3 linked regions of the Homo sapiens genome follow. The protein of the gene in region 1 interacts with the protein of each later gene in a pairwise test. Each region holds a gene or a part of one and is shown on either strand. Other genes may lie near its edges.

Evidence for each region. The genes of interacting proteins can lie anywhere in the genome.
Region 2: the proteins of SNRPA (region 1) and RASAL3 interact in binary tests that used the Homo sapiens proteins (3 or more experiments, as listed by UniProt).
Region 3: the proteins of SNRPA (region 1) and LENG8 interact in binary tests that used the Homo sapiens proteins (3 or more experiments, as listed by UniProt).

Annotation. Positions count from the first base shown.
Region 1 is NC_000019.10:40,761,174-40,765,902, reverse strand, and holds the end of SNRPA (U1 small nuclear ribonucleoprotein A), read right to left. Parts: intron 3,003-4,729; coding exon 2,829-3,002; intron 2,317-2,828; coding exon 2,228-2,316; intron 896-2,227; coding exon 736-895; 3' UTR 514-735; downstream 1-513. UniProt on the Homo sapiens protein: Component of the spliceosomal U1 snRNP, which is essential for recognition of the pre-mRNA 5' splice-site and the subsequent assembly of the spliceosome. U1 snRNP is the first snRNP to interact with pre-mRNA.
Region 2 is NC_000019.10:15,451,086-15,454,548, forward strand, and holds the end of RASAL3 (RAS protein activator like-3), read right to left. Parts: coding exon 3,276-3,463; intron 3,183-3,275; coding exon 3,064-3,182; intron 2,413-3,063; coding exon 2,022-2,412; intron 1,731-2,021; coding exon 1,573-1,730; intron 1,166-1,572; coding exon of another isoform or gene 1,060-1,165; exon of another isoform or gene 1,024-1,059; coding exon 960-1,023; intron 854-959; coding exon 710-853; 3' UTR 539-709; downstream 1-538. UniProt on the Homo sapiens protein: Functions as a Ras GTPase-activating protein. Plays an important role in the expansion and functions of natural killer T (NKT) cells in the liver by negatively regulating RAS activity and the down-stream ERK signaling pathway.
Region 3 is NC_000019.10:54,452,195-54,459,236, reverse strand, and holds part of LENG8 (leukocyte receptor cluster member 8), read right to left. Parts: coding exon 6,970-7,042; intron 6,587-6,969; coding exon 6,485-6,586; intron 5,692-6,484; coding exon 5,581-5,691; intron 4,808-5,580; coding exon 4,555-4,807; intron 4,287-4,554; coding exon 4,145-4,286; intron 3,874-4,144; coding exon 3,670-3,873; intron 3,271-3,669; coding exon 2,992-3,270; intron 2,913-2,991; coding exon 2,772-2,912; intron 2,602-2,771; coding exon 2,316-2,601; intron 1,491-2,315; coding exon 1,389-1,490; intron 1,304-1,388; coding exon 1,235-1,303; intron 1,135-1,234; coding exon 1,005-1,134; intron 924-1,004; coding exon 716-923; coding exon of another isoform or gene 331-715; exon of another isoform or gene 1-330.

The DNA of each region.
Region 1 (4,729 bases):
CCTACCACCCACACGCCCCATGATTTCAGCAGCACCAAGTTTCCTGTATTAAATTCCTTTCTGTTTGAACTACCTACTGTGGTTTCTCTGGGGCCATTGCTACAACAGGCTGCACTTTTGAGAAGAGTAAAAAAAAGGTGAAGAAACACCTCTCCCTGAACACTCTTGTCATCTGTTAGAAAAGTGGTGGCATAAACTTGTAAGCCTACAAAGTGAATGGTGTGCCCTTAAAAGGTGCCATTCTTGTGCAGTACCCATCCTGCCTAACTGTACGCGGCAGCCCTGACTTTCCATTTCCTGACCCAGGATTCCATTTCCTGCTGTGAATTGGGACAACATACAAAACTGCCAAAGTAGTCATTGTAACCTGAGTTTGAACAATATTACTACACTATCCTATGTTTCCCCAAGGTTGCAAACCTCAAAATGCCAAGAGGTCCAAAAACCCAGGATGTGCTGCTGAGGTGGAGGGAAAGGAACCATGAAGAGCAAGAAAATCAGACAGACAAATGATTGTGAAAAACCAAACCTCAAAAAGCCACTTTAATTCCGGCCTAACAGCGCCAGGTGCAATGTCTGGGGACAGACTCTGGGTACAATGCTGTGTGGCGACCACTCACTCACACACGGCTCCAAGAAGGCCCCCAAGGGGGGACTTACCTTCAGGGGGCTGAGCCAAGGGGGAAAGGGGTGGCCCCAGAACAGGGGAAGGGGCAGGCATGGGGGGAAAAGGTGCTACTTCTTGGCAAAGGAGATCTTCATGGCGTTGTTCTGCGTGATCTTAAAGCCCTGCAGGGCATCGCGAGCTGCCCCTGCCTGTACCTCATTGTCAAACTCCACGAAGGCGATGTCATGCCGCCCGGGTACCAGACGGACCTCCTTGAAGCCAGGGAACCTGAAAGAGAACGACAGACCTCAGGGACTCAGCATTTCCCCCTAACGTAACGGCATCAAGTGGACAGAGGCCAGAAATGATGCCAAATAGCCTCCAATGCACAGGGCAGGGCCCCATTACTCAGAATTATCCAGCCCAAAATGCAGATAGTACTAAGTTGAAAAACTCTAATGTAAACATAGCATTTAATGAAAAATTTAAACACAAACACCCATGCAACTGCAACCTAAATCAAGAAACAGTACACCGCAGTCTCCTGGGCCCTTCCTAAATCATAACCCACCCGCCACACCAAAAAAATAACCAATACCCTCACTTTTTCCATTTTTATTCTTGTATTTTTAGGAGAGAAGGGGTTTCACCAAGTTGCCCACATTGGCCTCGAACTCCTGACCTCAAGTGATCCACCTGCCTCAGCCTCCCAACATACTGGGATTTTAGGCGTGAGCCACCGCACCCGGCCTTACCCTCACTTTTCTGATATGCTGTTTCTCTAATTTCCCTCTTCTCATTCCATACTTCTTTCTCCATTAAGCAGCCATCCTCATGTTTACTAGGTATCCTTTTTTCCATCGGCATTCTCACAAAATATACAGCTTTGTGGACAGGCTGCACATGTGGTATTGTTTTTCTGTATTTTTCAGGTTCTCACAATCTTCTCTCGGCACTATTATAAAGTTGCGCTTTCTGTTCTTCTAAGTGCCACGCAGTGCAGCATGGTGAGATGCTGCATGTAGCCATCCCTTCTCCCAGACACCCTCCAACTCCCCACCACAAACACTGACGAATGCCCCACTCACAGCCCCTGAAACAGAACCACCAGATGAACTCACCCACACCCACGACTTCACTCAACAATGGTGAACAGCCCCTCTACACATCGGCTGCACCGGCCTCCACCCTGACGCCAGGCACAAGAGTTTCACGCATCCCCATCTCCCACACTTGCTGTTTCTGAGCACGCTGACTTCTGCCAGTCTTAGCCAATGTTCAAGGACATCTCAATGCAGTTTTACACATACCTTGCCTTGCATGCCCCCATTTTAGGGGCTGGGAAAATGAGGCCCAGAGCCTGGACTCCCTCAGCCCTCAAACAAGGCTGAAAAAAGCCGGCAAGCCCTGGCCATGGAGACCTTTCCAGCCTCACCCCCATGTCCCCCACAGGCCGTGGGCCCAGCCACAGCCTCCTCCTTTCACATCTTTGGTCGCTGTCCCTTCTGCAAAGCCCTACTTGGCTCAGAGCTCTGCTGGCAGAGTTCTGAGGCCTGTTTCCATGGAGATGCCTCCTGGCCATCACCCTCCAGGGACCACCCAGCCACAGGCCCCACTTACTGATTGAAAAGCATGGACAGCATGAGCTCGTTGGTCTCCTCTGGCAGGTTGGTGAGGAACAAGATGTGATTCGGTGGATTCTCAGAAAGCTGCGGGGGTATAGGGGAGTCGGTGAGCACAAGAGCCCTGAGTCCAGTGGGAGACCCATAGTACTGCCACTTCCTCCATCCCTCACCCTGCTTGAATTCACTCTGGTACTTCCACCCAACATACCACATATTGTTGTCTGTTGCCTGTCTGCCTCCCACCTCTTTGCCCCTACAGACTATAGGCCACAGGACAGCAGAGGTTTCTATCTCAGTCCCTGCTGCAGCCCTACAGTGCAGAACGGGGCCTGGCACGTAAGGAGGCGCTCAATAGCTCATGGAATCAATCTAGGTGCTGGCACCACTCCAGCCTACCCTAACCTTCCGTACCCTCCAACCAGCATGCCAATTCCTCTGCCCAGGGCCCACCCCCACTGCTACTTCCTCATTCAGTACCACCTCCTCAGGGGGCCTGCCCAGACCACCCAACCTACAGCAGCCCCCCAACTGGTCCCTTTCTAGTCCTGTATTCTCACTATTTATATGAGACCTGGTGGGTGGGACTAGATACTCACAGGCTGGGCAGGGGGCATCTGTCCTGGCATAAGCTGCTGCGGGGGCATGGCCCCTGGTGGGATCTGGCCAGGTGCAAGGCCTGGCGGGGGGATCATACCAGGGGGCGGCATGTAGGGCGGCTGGCCCGGCATGTGGTGCATAATGCGGGGCGCCTGAGTCATCGGCGGCATGCCCTGTGGAGAGAGGGAGGAGAGTGCGTGGTTACAGCAGCCCCAGGAGGCAGAGAAGAGGCCATGAAAGGAAACCTAGCGGGTGAGAGATGTAAGGAAAAACACCCAGAAAGAGGCGCAAAAGGCACCCAAAGAGGGCCCGACAGAGCAAAACAAACCCAGGGTCTAGTGGGACATTAAATCAGAAAGAGTTAAATGCTATTTGTGAGGCTGAGGTAGGAGGATCACTTGAGCACAGGAGGTCAAGACTGCATGCAGTGAGCTCTGATTGTGCCACAGCACTCCAGCCTGGGAGGCAGAGCAAGACCCTGTCTCTTAAACAAAATCAAAGGAGAGGAAGAGATGGAAAGGGACAGTCAGGGCAGGTGCAGAAAGAAATGTGTGGTAGGCCGGGCACGATGGCTCACGCCTATAATCCTAACACTTTGGGAGGCCGAGGCAGGCGGATCGCCTGAGGTTAGGAGTTTGAGACCAGCCTGGGCAACATGGTGAAACCCCGCCCCTACCAAAAATACAAATATTAGCCAGGCGTGGTGGTGGGCACCTGTAATCCCGGCTACTAGAGTGGCTGAGGCAGGAGAATCACTTGAACCCGGCAACAGAAGGTTGGAGTGAGCCGAGATCACACCACTGCACTCCAGCCTGGGCAACAGAGTAAGTCTCTGTCTCAAAAAACAAAAACAAAAACAAAGGAGGGCAGTGATGGAAAGGGACACTCAGGGCAGGTGCAGAACAAAACGCGTGGCAGCAAGGGGAAGAGGGAAGACAACAGATGGCAGGCAGCACACTCAGGGGCTGGAATCACAATCTGAAGTCCAAAGTGGACAGAAAACTAGGTGCAGGGAAGAGGAGAGAGGTTAACAGGAGCCCACAGTAATCCAGACACCATCACCAACTTGGAGAAAGTGTGAGTGGCACCGAATAGAGCATGACCCAGTCAGAGCCATGAGACTCATGAAAGCCAGAGAGACACGGAGGCTCAGAGACCTAAGGAGTGGGCCTGGTTCATCCATCTTTTCTTTTGTACTCGGTGCTTTTTGTATCCTGTTTGGAAAACAGGATGTTTCCACTTTTCATGCCCTCACCAAGGTCATTTAGACATTTTCCTGTTTTCTTCTAGAAACTTTATTGTGTGAGGGCCGGGTGCAGTGGCTCACGCTTGTAATCCCAGCACTTCGGGAGGGTGAGGAGGGCGGATCACTTGAGGTCAGGAGTTCGAGACCAGCCTGGCCAACATGGTGAAACCCCATCTCTACTAAAAATACAAAAATTAGCTGGGTGTGGTGGCACATGCCTGTAGTCCCAGATCCTCGGGAGGCAGGGGCAGGAGACTCGCTTGAACCCAGGAAGCGCAGGTTGCAGAGAGCTGAGATCACACCACTGCACTCCAGCCTGGACTACAGAGCGAGGCTCTGTCTCAAAAAAAAAAAAAAAAAAAAAAAAAAGAAAAAGAAAAAGAAAAGAAAAGAGAAAAGAAACTATATTTTGTGAGTTGTCACATTTGGATCTGCAATTCACTTCAAGTTATATTTTGCATATAGTATGAGGTAGGGCTAATTTTTTCCCCTTGCAGATACCCAACTGCCCCGCATCATGAACTAGGGGAAAAAAAGTCCTTTCCTCAGTGAAGTGCAGTGGTACCTCGATCACACATCAAGTAATTATACAAGTGTAGCTGTACCTAGACTCTTCATCCTGTCCCCTTGGTCTGTCTTCCTACCCTTCTGCCA
Region 2 (3,463 bases), about 25 Mb from region 1:
CCAGGTCAAACATCCAGCAAATGCTAACCTATCCGTCTGCCGTTTGCTCCACCCACTCTACCCCTCACCCATCCACTCACCCATGATTTGAATGACTCATTTACCCAATCATTCATACACAGTATCCAACCATCTCCACACCTGACCCCCTTCCTTTATCCGCCTCCCAGACCCATGGCCTCCGTGACATGAGGAGGGCCTAGGAAGATGCTCTCACTGTGGGATTGGGAGGTTGCCAGGGGTGGAATCCATGCTTCATTGAGAAGCAGGTGCTGCCTATAACAATGGTGAATACCTTTTATCGAATGCCTTTAACTATGGGTCCTCTCACTGTGTAGGGAACTTTACGTCCATTTCACAGATAAGAAAACGGGCTCTTAAGAGAATGAAGGTCTAAGGTCACACAGCTGGTGAGAACTTGTGTACATGGCCCTCTCCATGAGACTTCTAATTAGGGGAGAATTTGGGAGAGATGAATAGGGCTTGCGGGGCAAATGCCTAAGAATTGGCAATTCTTAGTGGGCAAAGAAACCACCAATTTCACTGAAATCAAGATTTTACTGGGCAACTTCATACTGCCAGAGTGGTTGGGACCAGCAGCTCCACTCCCCACTGTAGGCCAAGTAGGGCTAAGGCAAAGTCAGACACCCCCCCTAAGATGGCTATCTCTCTGCTCCCAGACCACGTGTGATGAGGCAGGATGGGCAGCTCAGGTGGTGTCTCCATTGAGGCAGGGTGCTTTGAGGGGCTGGGGTTGACTCCAAGACCCCCGCGTCCTTGGAGAAAGCTGCAGGCTCTGGACAGCATCCCTCAGCTGAGCCTGAGTTCTCTCCATCTCATTTAGGCGGTGCTCCTGGGGAGGCAGTGGTGATGGGGTTCAGAAACCAGGAGAGGGCTGCACCGCAACCCTTGCTCCTCCACCGCCCAGACCTGCCCCAGGGCTCAGATGGCAATCTCACCAGGTTTTTCAGACTGTGCCCTTCATTGCTTGTTAGGTTGTGCTCTGAATCAAACTCTGAGCTCCTGTGGGGGTCGGGGGATTGGGGCGAAGGGCAGAGGCTAAGGAAGTCCCTTCCAGCTCCTGGTGGGAGTGCCAGGGACTCCGGGGGCGGAGCTTGGAGTGGAGGCGGAGCTTGTCCAGACTGAGGGGCGGGGCCTAAATATGCTTGAAGAAGGGTCGGACCAGAGACGGGAATGGTTGGAATGACAGGACCTATCAATCATCCCTTGGAGGTGGGGTTTGGCCAGTCCTGGGTGGGGTCGTGACTGAGCTGGAGGGAGTGCCCAGGCTGAGATATCTCAGTGCCCGGCCCAGCCAGGTTGGGAGGGGCTGATGGAGGGGTGGGGCCTGGATGAGAGAATCTGCCAGGGTCCTAGGCCGACCTTCGTTGGGTGGGTCCACCTGGGGGCGGGGCTTGCCAAGAGGCAGGGCCTGGACAGACTTATTGGGGCGGGGCCAGGGTGGGGCTTGGCCGTGCTAGGCGTGGTTTGGGGGGGGGGGGGAGGGCCTGGTCAGATCTAATTGGATCGGGCCCACCTGGGGGCGGAGCTAATGGAGAGGGCTGGGCTCACCCAGCACGGAGCCTGGAGTCCAGATCCTGCAGCTGGCCCCGCAGCTGCTCCTGCTGCTCCGTCAAGGCCCGGATTTGGGTGCTCAGCGACTCCACGAGGCGGGACAGCACTTTCTGCTCCTCACGCAGAGCGGCCACCTCGCACTGCAGCTCTGCCAACTGTGGTGGGAGAGCAGCTGTAATCTGACCCGTTGTCCCGCCCCTGTGTCTCCCCGGAGACCCTGACCTCCCAGGCCCAAGCGCTCAGCGTCATCACCGGCCTGCCTAGTTGGGGAACATCCCTCCTGCGGTACAGCTGGGGAGACTGAAGCTCAGAGAGGGTCGGGCTAGGCCTGGGGTCACACAGCACAGCGAGCTGGGTACTTGAACCCAGACTTGCCTGGCCCTTCAGTCTTCCCCAGTCGCGTCCCTGTTCCCACTCCCCAGGCGCGGACCTGGGCCTGACCTTACCTTGTTCACAGGTCGGTGCGTGCCCAGTGCCTGGTTTCGGTCTTGCGGCTGGTCCATTTGGCGCTGCCAGGGTACCGACGGCTTCCGAGGCAGCGAGGCGGAGTCCCGGGTCCAAGGCCGGGCGCGGGGCGCTGGTCCCATGCTCAGGGAGCCTTTGGGTCGCGGCCAGGGCCCCGCAGATTGGCGGCGGCGGGCAGGACGCCGGACCGGGACACTCTGCGTGCGCTGCACCGGCCGGGGCCGCCGCAGGGGCCGCTCTTCGTCCGGCCGTGGCCGGGCCCAACTCTCTGAGCGGCGAACGCTGCGCAGAGACTGGCTCTTGGAGATGAGAGGGGTGTGCTTGGGGAGGTCCCGGGGGGCCAGGAAGCCGGGCTTCTCCCCTGCGGAGAGGCTAGGGGTGGGATGGAGGATCTTAGACCCTCCACTGGCCCCTGAGACGACCCCATCCCGACCTGACCAGAAGTGACCTCACCCCCCACGTGAACTTGTCCTTTCTTTTTTTTTTTTGAGACAAGGTCTTGCTCTGTCGCCCAGGCTGGAGTGCAGTGGCTAGATCATAGCTCACTGCAGCCTTGAATTCTGGAGCTCAAGCTATTCCCCAGCCTCAGCCTCCCAAATATCTAGGACTACCAGCACATGCCACTATACCCAGGTAATTTTTTTTTTTTTTGGTAGAGATGGGGTCTCCCTATGTTGCCCAGGCTTGTCTTAAGTTCCTGGCCTCAAGTGATCCTCCTGCCTCAGCCTCCCAAAGTGCTGGGATTACAGGCATGAGCCACTGAGCCTGGCTCCTGTCCTTGACTTCTGACTATAATACTGTCCTCTCTATGACCCTTGACATCTCTCCACCCTAACCTCTCCTCTCATCCCCGACCTCAAACACACTGTGACCTTTGACCCAACCCTTTCTATAACCTGTGATTCCCGTCTGACCCTGGGCTTGACCTCTGCTCACAATGATCCAACTTCACCTCTGACCCCTGTCTGAGCCCTGCTCCTTCCTGTTCCCACCCATCAGACCCCAGACCAGACTTGAGGTTACCTGGAGTGGACCTGGGCCGGGGGCAGTGGGAGACGCATTGGCACTGACACAAGCACAGGCTGGCCCTCCTCAATGGCTCGCAGGATGGTGGGCAGTGGTTCCAGGGTGTCTCGGGTTGTCTGGTGAGGCATGCAGGACAGAGACTGAGCAAAGTCTCCAGGGTCAGAGTCTCCCAAGCCTTCTTGCCTCCCTACTCTGGGTTCAGGCCATACCTGGTCAAGCTCAGCAAAAATTGTACAGAGCTGGGCATGCAGGACAGCTAACTGGAGGGCCAGATCACCACTGCCCTGGTAACCACTGGGGGCAGCATCCACATCCACCATGGCTACCTGGTCCAGGAAGCATTGCATGGCTGGTCCATGTTCCTCCAGGAAGCTATTCATGAAGCCCATGTAGGCCT
Region 3 (7,042 bases), about 14 Mb from region 1:
GCCTCCACTCACTAGATGCCAAGAGCATCCCCTTGCTGTGACAAGCGAAAACCTCTCTTGACATTGCCCAGCGTCGCCTGGGCACCTCAATCACCAGACAGAACCATGCGTCTAAACATGAGTCAAGCAACTCATCCCCACCCACAGCAAGCCAGGCGCAATGTCTAGTGAACGAAGGACACTGCAGGGGCATGGCCTGACCAGGGGCCTCTGGCACCGCGCCCAGTGTGGCCTCAACACAGGTGTCTCCCTAAGCGTTTCTGGTGCTCTCAAAGGAGCTGAGTGGGACTGGGCCTTGTCCTGGTAGACCAGAGGCTGTCTAGATGGTCTCTATGGTGGGAGCACAGCGACAAGCTGAGAAAGCAGAGACCTCAGGGTTCTGAGGAAGCCCAGGGCAAGGAGTGAACTAGGGGGTCCAGGCAGGAGAGAACAGGAGGAAGAGACACACAGATGGGGTGGAGAAGAGGCCCCAGAGGCAGTGAGCTGGGAACAGTGGGGAGAGGGAGAGGAGTGACCCGGAACACAGAGGTGACCAACAAGGAGAGCAAGAGGAACTGGAGAGGGGAGGGCTGAATGGAGAAAGATGATGGGGAAGCAAGGACCAGGACAAGGGTTGGGGGCTGGGGGAGGCCTGCGGCCAGGAGCTGGTCTGAGGGGCGGTGCGAGGCGGAAGGATGGGAAGAGCAAAGGCAGAAGGGAGCTTGGCACCACATACGTTTTGATCATGGCCTTGAGGGCGACCTTGCGCTCCCGATCTGCAAACTTGTCCACGAGGTAGCCAGACATGCAGGGTGCATGGCAGTAGAGCCGGAAAAAGCGGTGGTAGTTGCCCAGGGCCCAGGCTGTCCTTAATGCCAAGGCGTGGGCCACGCAAGGATCTGCCTTCAGTTCTCGTGTGAGGTATGCCAGCTCCGTGGTGATGTCTAGCACCAAGACAAAGAGGGTGAAGTCAGCAGGGCTCAACCCTGGGTACCATGGCCTCTGTCCTGGGGACTGGGCCTCACCTCCCGAGTTCTTGGTGAAGATGTAGTAGAGGATTCGGTAGGCAGTAAACTCGCCCACATTGCCAGGCAAGTTCTCGGCGTACAGCGACTTGAGCTGCGTCTGGCACTGGTTAAACTCTTCATGGTCACCCTGGAAGGCAGAGGCACCGAGGGAGGAGAGCAGAGTGAGGGTGCTGAGGGCAGAACGGCAGCAGGAAAGGGGCTGGGGAGGCCCGCAGAGGCCAGCTCACCTTCTCCAAGGCGATCCGGGCATGGGTCTCGTACACCTCCACCGTGAACTCGGTGCGGATGCCCTGCACCTGGGGCAGCGGGGCGAGAACAAGAGTCACAAGGAGCGGGAGGCAGGACTGGCTGAGGCCAGGCCCCTCCCAGCGCGAGTCTCACCGTCAGATCCTGCCGGATCGACTTCATCTGCTCGCAGGCAAACGCGTAGTCCTGCTTCTCTTTCCAGTGGCACTTGACCATGCACAGCGACTTTTTCAAAACCTGAAAAAGGGAACTGAATTCACACTCGGAGTACAACTCAGGTAGCGTGGCCAACGGCTTCCACTTATTTGGTGGGAGAGTTGCAACATTAAAAAAAGAAAAAAAAGGCCAGGCGCAGTGGCTCACGCCTGTAATCCCAGCACTTTGGGAGGCCGAGGTGTGTGGATCATCTGAGGTCAGGAGTTTGAGACCAACCTGGCCAACATGGTGAAACCCCGTCTCTACTAAAAATACAAAAATCAGCCAGGCGTAGTGGCAGACGCCTGTAATCCCAGCCACTAGGGAGGCTGAGGCAGGAGAATCGCTTGAAGCCGGGGAGCGGAGGCTGCGGTGAGCCAAGATCACGCCATTGCACTCCAGCTTGGGCGACAGAGCCAGACTCTCTCCCAAAAAAAGAGAAAACAAACCCACAAGACATGGGTTAAGAGTGGCCACCTCCACACCCATTTCCCTATAAGCACATGGCTGTTCACAGGTTCTGCAGCAGAACAGTGACTACGCCAAACACTGGAAACACAGCCCCCCACGCCCCACAGCCCACGGGCCTGGGAGAAGGCTTTATGCTCCGTGTCACCTAAGCCAGGAACCACGGCCCAGAGGTCAAGCGATTCGCCGGCCAAGCTGCACACCCGCCACGCGGGGCTCCAGGGCAGCAGAGCGCCTTTGCGCTCCTCTCAGAATGCCGACCAGCCGAGGCGTCTCTGGCCGAGCTTCCCCTGCCATACCAGAGCCCCCGTGTGGCCTCTGCCACCCTCCCTGGGTTGGCTCCCCAAGTCCTGAGCCAGCACGGCCTCACAGAGCAGAACTGCCCTGCTGGGCACTTACTGCCACAGGGCGCACGGTGGACGGGTCGGGGGCACAGGTGAGGCGCAGGTAGTGCTTGGTGATGTCAGGGCAGGTGCCCACGATCTGCAGCTCCTGCCAGTCAGGGTCAGCCCCACTGCTCTCCAGGCTGCTCATCTGCAGCACCAGGGGCTCGAGGCGCAGGCGGCGGGAGTGTCCGTGCTGGAAGCGGGCTGCCCGCTTCTGCTTCTTCAGCTCTCGCTCCGGGTCCTCACACTCCAGCGCCGCCATCTTCTTTCGACTGCGCTTGGTGGGCGCCAGATCGTGCCTAGGAAGGGATGAGGGGCAGTGAGCGCGACAGGCGTCTCCAGCCCCCCTTCAGCCTCGCCCCTTTGGCAGCTGGCTGTCCACCTGTCCGGCCCTCCTCCTCCTTCTCCCATGGGTCCCCAGTACCCTCCTCCACCCTGGCCCGTGTGTCGAGCCCTCACACAGTCTCACCTCTTCCCACGCTGCGCCCTGCCTCGGCCCCGATCCATATGGGCCCCTCGACCGCCCCGGCCCTTAGGGGGCGGGTTCCTGCGGCCCACAGGGTGACACTCATTCCCTGAGTAGGAGCTGTCGGAGTCTGAGTGGGAGTCACTGCAGGAAGAAGCAGGAGGGTCAGGCCTGAAACGCCTCCCCCTCCCTCACACACAGCCCCAGCCGGGAGCCTCAGTACCTTCTGCGGAAGTGGCGCGTCGGGGACCTGGAGGAGGAGCGGGAGCGGGAGTCTGTGCTGGAAGAAGAGCTGTTGTCCTTCATGAAGACGTTGCGGTTGCCAAACTTGGTGAAGCTGTTGCCCCGGGCTCGACCGGCACCCCCAGCCCCGGGCGTCCCTCGCTGGGACGGGGCACCCCCGCCCCTTGTCGCCGAGCCTGCCCCTCTAGGAGGGTGAAGGCTGCTAGCGGCCTCCCACCGCTTCTTCTTAGGGCTCTCAGCCACAGGCTCCCGGGTCAGCCTGAGAATACAGCAGGGCAGGGCGTCACCAACCCCGCCAGACACTGGCAGGACAGCCGCCACCACCTCCCTCAAGGTACCGACCCGCCTCCGAAAGGAAAGGCACTTACCCCAGGCGGCTCAGCTACTACAGTGCAGAAATGAGACGCGAACCCAGGTTTTCCGTCTCCAGAGGGTGCGCTTAACCACTGAGCAATGCACGCCTCTCCAGCACCCATGGTCCCCACCCCACCCCACCGGCCTCCCTCCAACCAGGACTTCATCCCCCCAGGATCCAACTTTCCAGTTCATTTCTCTTTGGAGCTCCTGGTACCTGGGACCCGCAACTCTCCTACCTCCATACCCAGCCCATGCCTCTCACAGCACCACCCTCCCACCTATGTCCCCCACCCAGACTAACCCCGGCAAGGGCTCCCGGCTCCAGTCAATGGTATAGGCCGAGCCGTCCTGCAGCCGCGCCTGCAGCACCTCCTTGAGCAGCTTTTCCGTGCGGTCCTTGTCCTCCTCCGACTCACAGGCGGTGAAGCAGCGCTCCACATACTCTTTCATGTCCTGGGGCCAGTCATCCGGCTTCCCAGACAGGTTCCCCCGGGCAGAGGACCCGCTGCGGGAGGACAGATGAGGGGCTCAGCTGGAGACGATCCCAAACTCAAAAGACCATCCCCACCGCCACTCTGAGCTGACACAGCGGGACGCAGTCCCCAAGTTTTCCTTCTGTCTCCTTCAGTGCTCACAGCAACCCCCAAGAGAGGGTCCTTCTGCCCTTTTCAGAGGCGCACACTGAGGCTCAGGGTGGGCAGCTGGCCAGTGGGACTGGACCATAGACGCTGAGTGCAGAGTGTGGGGCTGCGACGGGGCAAGGGGGCAGACGTCACCTGTGGTTCTGAACTTTCTCAGGGTTGGGCTGGGGGCCAAAACCACTGTGCTGGCCCTCTGCGTTGGAGCCAAAGCTCTGGGTGGTAACAGCAAAGGGTCGCTTCTGGATGTTGAACTTGAGACCTCCAGTCCCAGGGGCGGCTGTGAGGGCAGCGAAAGCTATGGTTAGGCCCTTCCCCGGCACATCCAGGGGTCCCCAGGGGACGGGAGGAAGTGGAAATGCAGGGAGGAGCGCTCAGGTTCTAGAGGAGGGCTCCAGCACACATGTGCCTGGTCCAGAGCAGCCCCACCCCCAGCCTGGCGATCACAACACCCAGAAACAAGGAGCAGCACACACCACGGGCCTCACACCCAGGAGCTCTTATGAGGGCCCAACCGCTCGGACCTCCACGTAGCTCTGCCAACTTACGTTTCATGCGGTTCCACAGCTGTTGGCCCTTCTTGGGCTTGGCAGGTTCGGTGTAGGTGTGTGGCCCATAGGCCTGGCCCGTGGCGGGCCCCGCCTGGCTGTGCTGTGTGGCTGGAGCTGTCCCAGGCTGAGGGCCACTGTTCAGCGTGTGAGCCCCATGTGGGGGATTTGAGGGCTGAGGGGGCTGAGCCGACGGCAGCTGCTGAGGGGGAGCCTGGTAGGACATGCTCTCATCCATGCCGGGGACTGGGGGCTGCAGAAGGAAGCAGGCGCTGAGCACGGGAGGCAGATTCTGGGGCTGGCGAGTGGCACTCAGCCCTCGCTGTGAGGACGCAGTGGTCACAGCACTCAGCACTCAACCCTCCCGTGACCTTCCCAAATGTGAGTTCATTCGAGTCCTCAGTAACTCTGTGAGGTTAACATTTGTTAACAGCCCTTTTCACAGCTGACAAGGCTCCAGCTCAGAGACTAAGCGACTTCCCAGGGCCCTAAGCTATGAAGCGGCAGCTGGCAGCGTTTCAATGCTGGAGTAACAGCCACCGACAACACACCCACTCCAGCGCTACCATCTGAGCACAAGACACCCATGAGCACACACACTCATGGAGCCCAAGGATGAGGCTACCATCCTTCCCGCTTTCGAGAGCTGACCGAGATGCGTAATTACACCAGGGGTGGGACAGCTGGGATTCAAACCCAGGTCTACCTGCCTCCTGTGCACTAGCCCGGCCATTCCTCCAAGCTGCACATTCAATGCAAAACCCAGCCGGTGTGTGCACGCCTGTGGGTGACCATGCTAGGGAAAAAGATGAGATGTCTTTCAACATCTCAGCCCTGGCCTTGGCTCAGCCTTAAACCCACCCCAGGTTCAAACACTATGCTCTGTCCTCCTCATTTTCAGATCAGGAGTTGCTTGGAAGGAAAAAAGCAGCTTAAGGAGTACAAGCCATTCCTCATTGACAGCTCATTCAAAAATCTACACTTCCTCTGCTTGAGCAGGGTATGGGAGCTGGGCTAGGATGTTACCTGGTTCAGAGTCCCTTGGTGTTGGGGTGCGGATGGCTGCTGGGGTGTGGCTGAGCCATAGGAGCCGGCCATCCCATACTGGGAAGGGGAGCCATAGCTCTGGTACATGCTCTGCAAAGGCGCAGGGAGGGAGGGTTTAGTGGGAGGCCTACCCTTTCCGCTTCCCCAGCCTGCTCAGGAACTACACCAGCCATGACCCTCTACCAATCCCTCACCCCTTTCTCTCTTCACTATATTAATGCACCACATCCTCTCATATATTAGGAAAAGAAAAACCTCTATCAATCCCACATCTCACTTAGCTAGTTCTCGGAAGAATATAATCAACGATACTGAGTGCCAACTCTTCTAAGCACTACGACAGAACAAAAGGAAAACCCATGCTGTAATGAAGCTTGTGCTGGAATTACATGTCCGGCTGGAGACATCAACATGTAATACATCCAGCAATAAGGATCATGAAACAATAAGATGGCAAAGAAAGGGAGAGGGACAGGCTGCGAGGCAGGAATGCTACTTTCAATCAGTGTGTCAGGTAGAGGCTCTCTGAAGGCGGCATCTGAGCAGAGACCTCCAAGAGGCGGCAACACAGGGAGCACTGCAGCCAGGGCAAAGCGAGAGCGGGCCTGGCGGGTGCGGGCATCAAGGAGGTCTCTGCTTCGATGGCCATGGCAGAATGAGCATGAGGAGAGAAGGGACCAGAACCGGGTATGTAGGACCTTGTGGCTCATGGCGGGGACCTAGGAATTTACCTCCTGGGCAAGTTAGAGGGTTTCTGAGCAGTTATCACTGCGATCTCCAGTCCATCCACCACCCAGCCCCATCCCGGCAGACTCCACTTCACCTCGCCCCGACCCAGCAGACTCCACCTCGCCCTGCCCCGCCCCACTGGCTGGGCACTCACCATGGGATAGTAGTAGCTGTAGGGGTAGGCATAGTTGTACTGCTGGTACCACTGGTAGTACTGCTGCTGCTGCAAAGCTGAGGCTTCTGCCTGGGACACGTACTGTGGAAGCAGAGGCACATGTGCCGTCAGCAGCCCAAATCCACAGGCACACGGCCCCCAAAGGGCAAGCCTGTTTACTGGTGGCCAATTGCCAAGGGATGAAACTGGGTCCATGTATCTGCAAAGTGAGCCACTGTCTCTACCATGAGACTCACGCACGTTAGAGACCAGGGGCATGGGCATGGCCTCCCTCTTCAGAACCACATCACGCCCTAATTTCCTCAAGGAAACAGAACTTTTTCCCGTTCAGATTTAGATACCCTGGAACGTCTTTTCATGTTTCCCCTCAGAGCACCCCGTCTGAATGATACAACAGGACGCCAGACTGTGTCCCTCCCACAACCTCTGGCTCAGGGTACCCCAGCCCCATGAGGCCTTCTCACCTGTGCACTGGCCACAGGCCCATTGCTGCTGGACTTGGCAGAGCCGCCGGCAGCTCCTGACTTGCTGATGCTG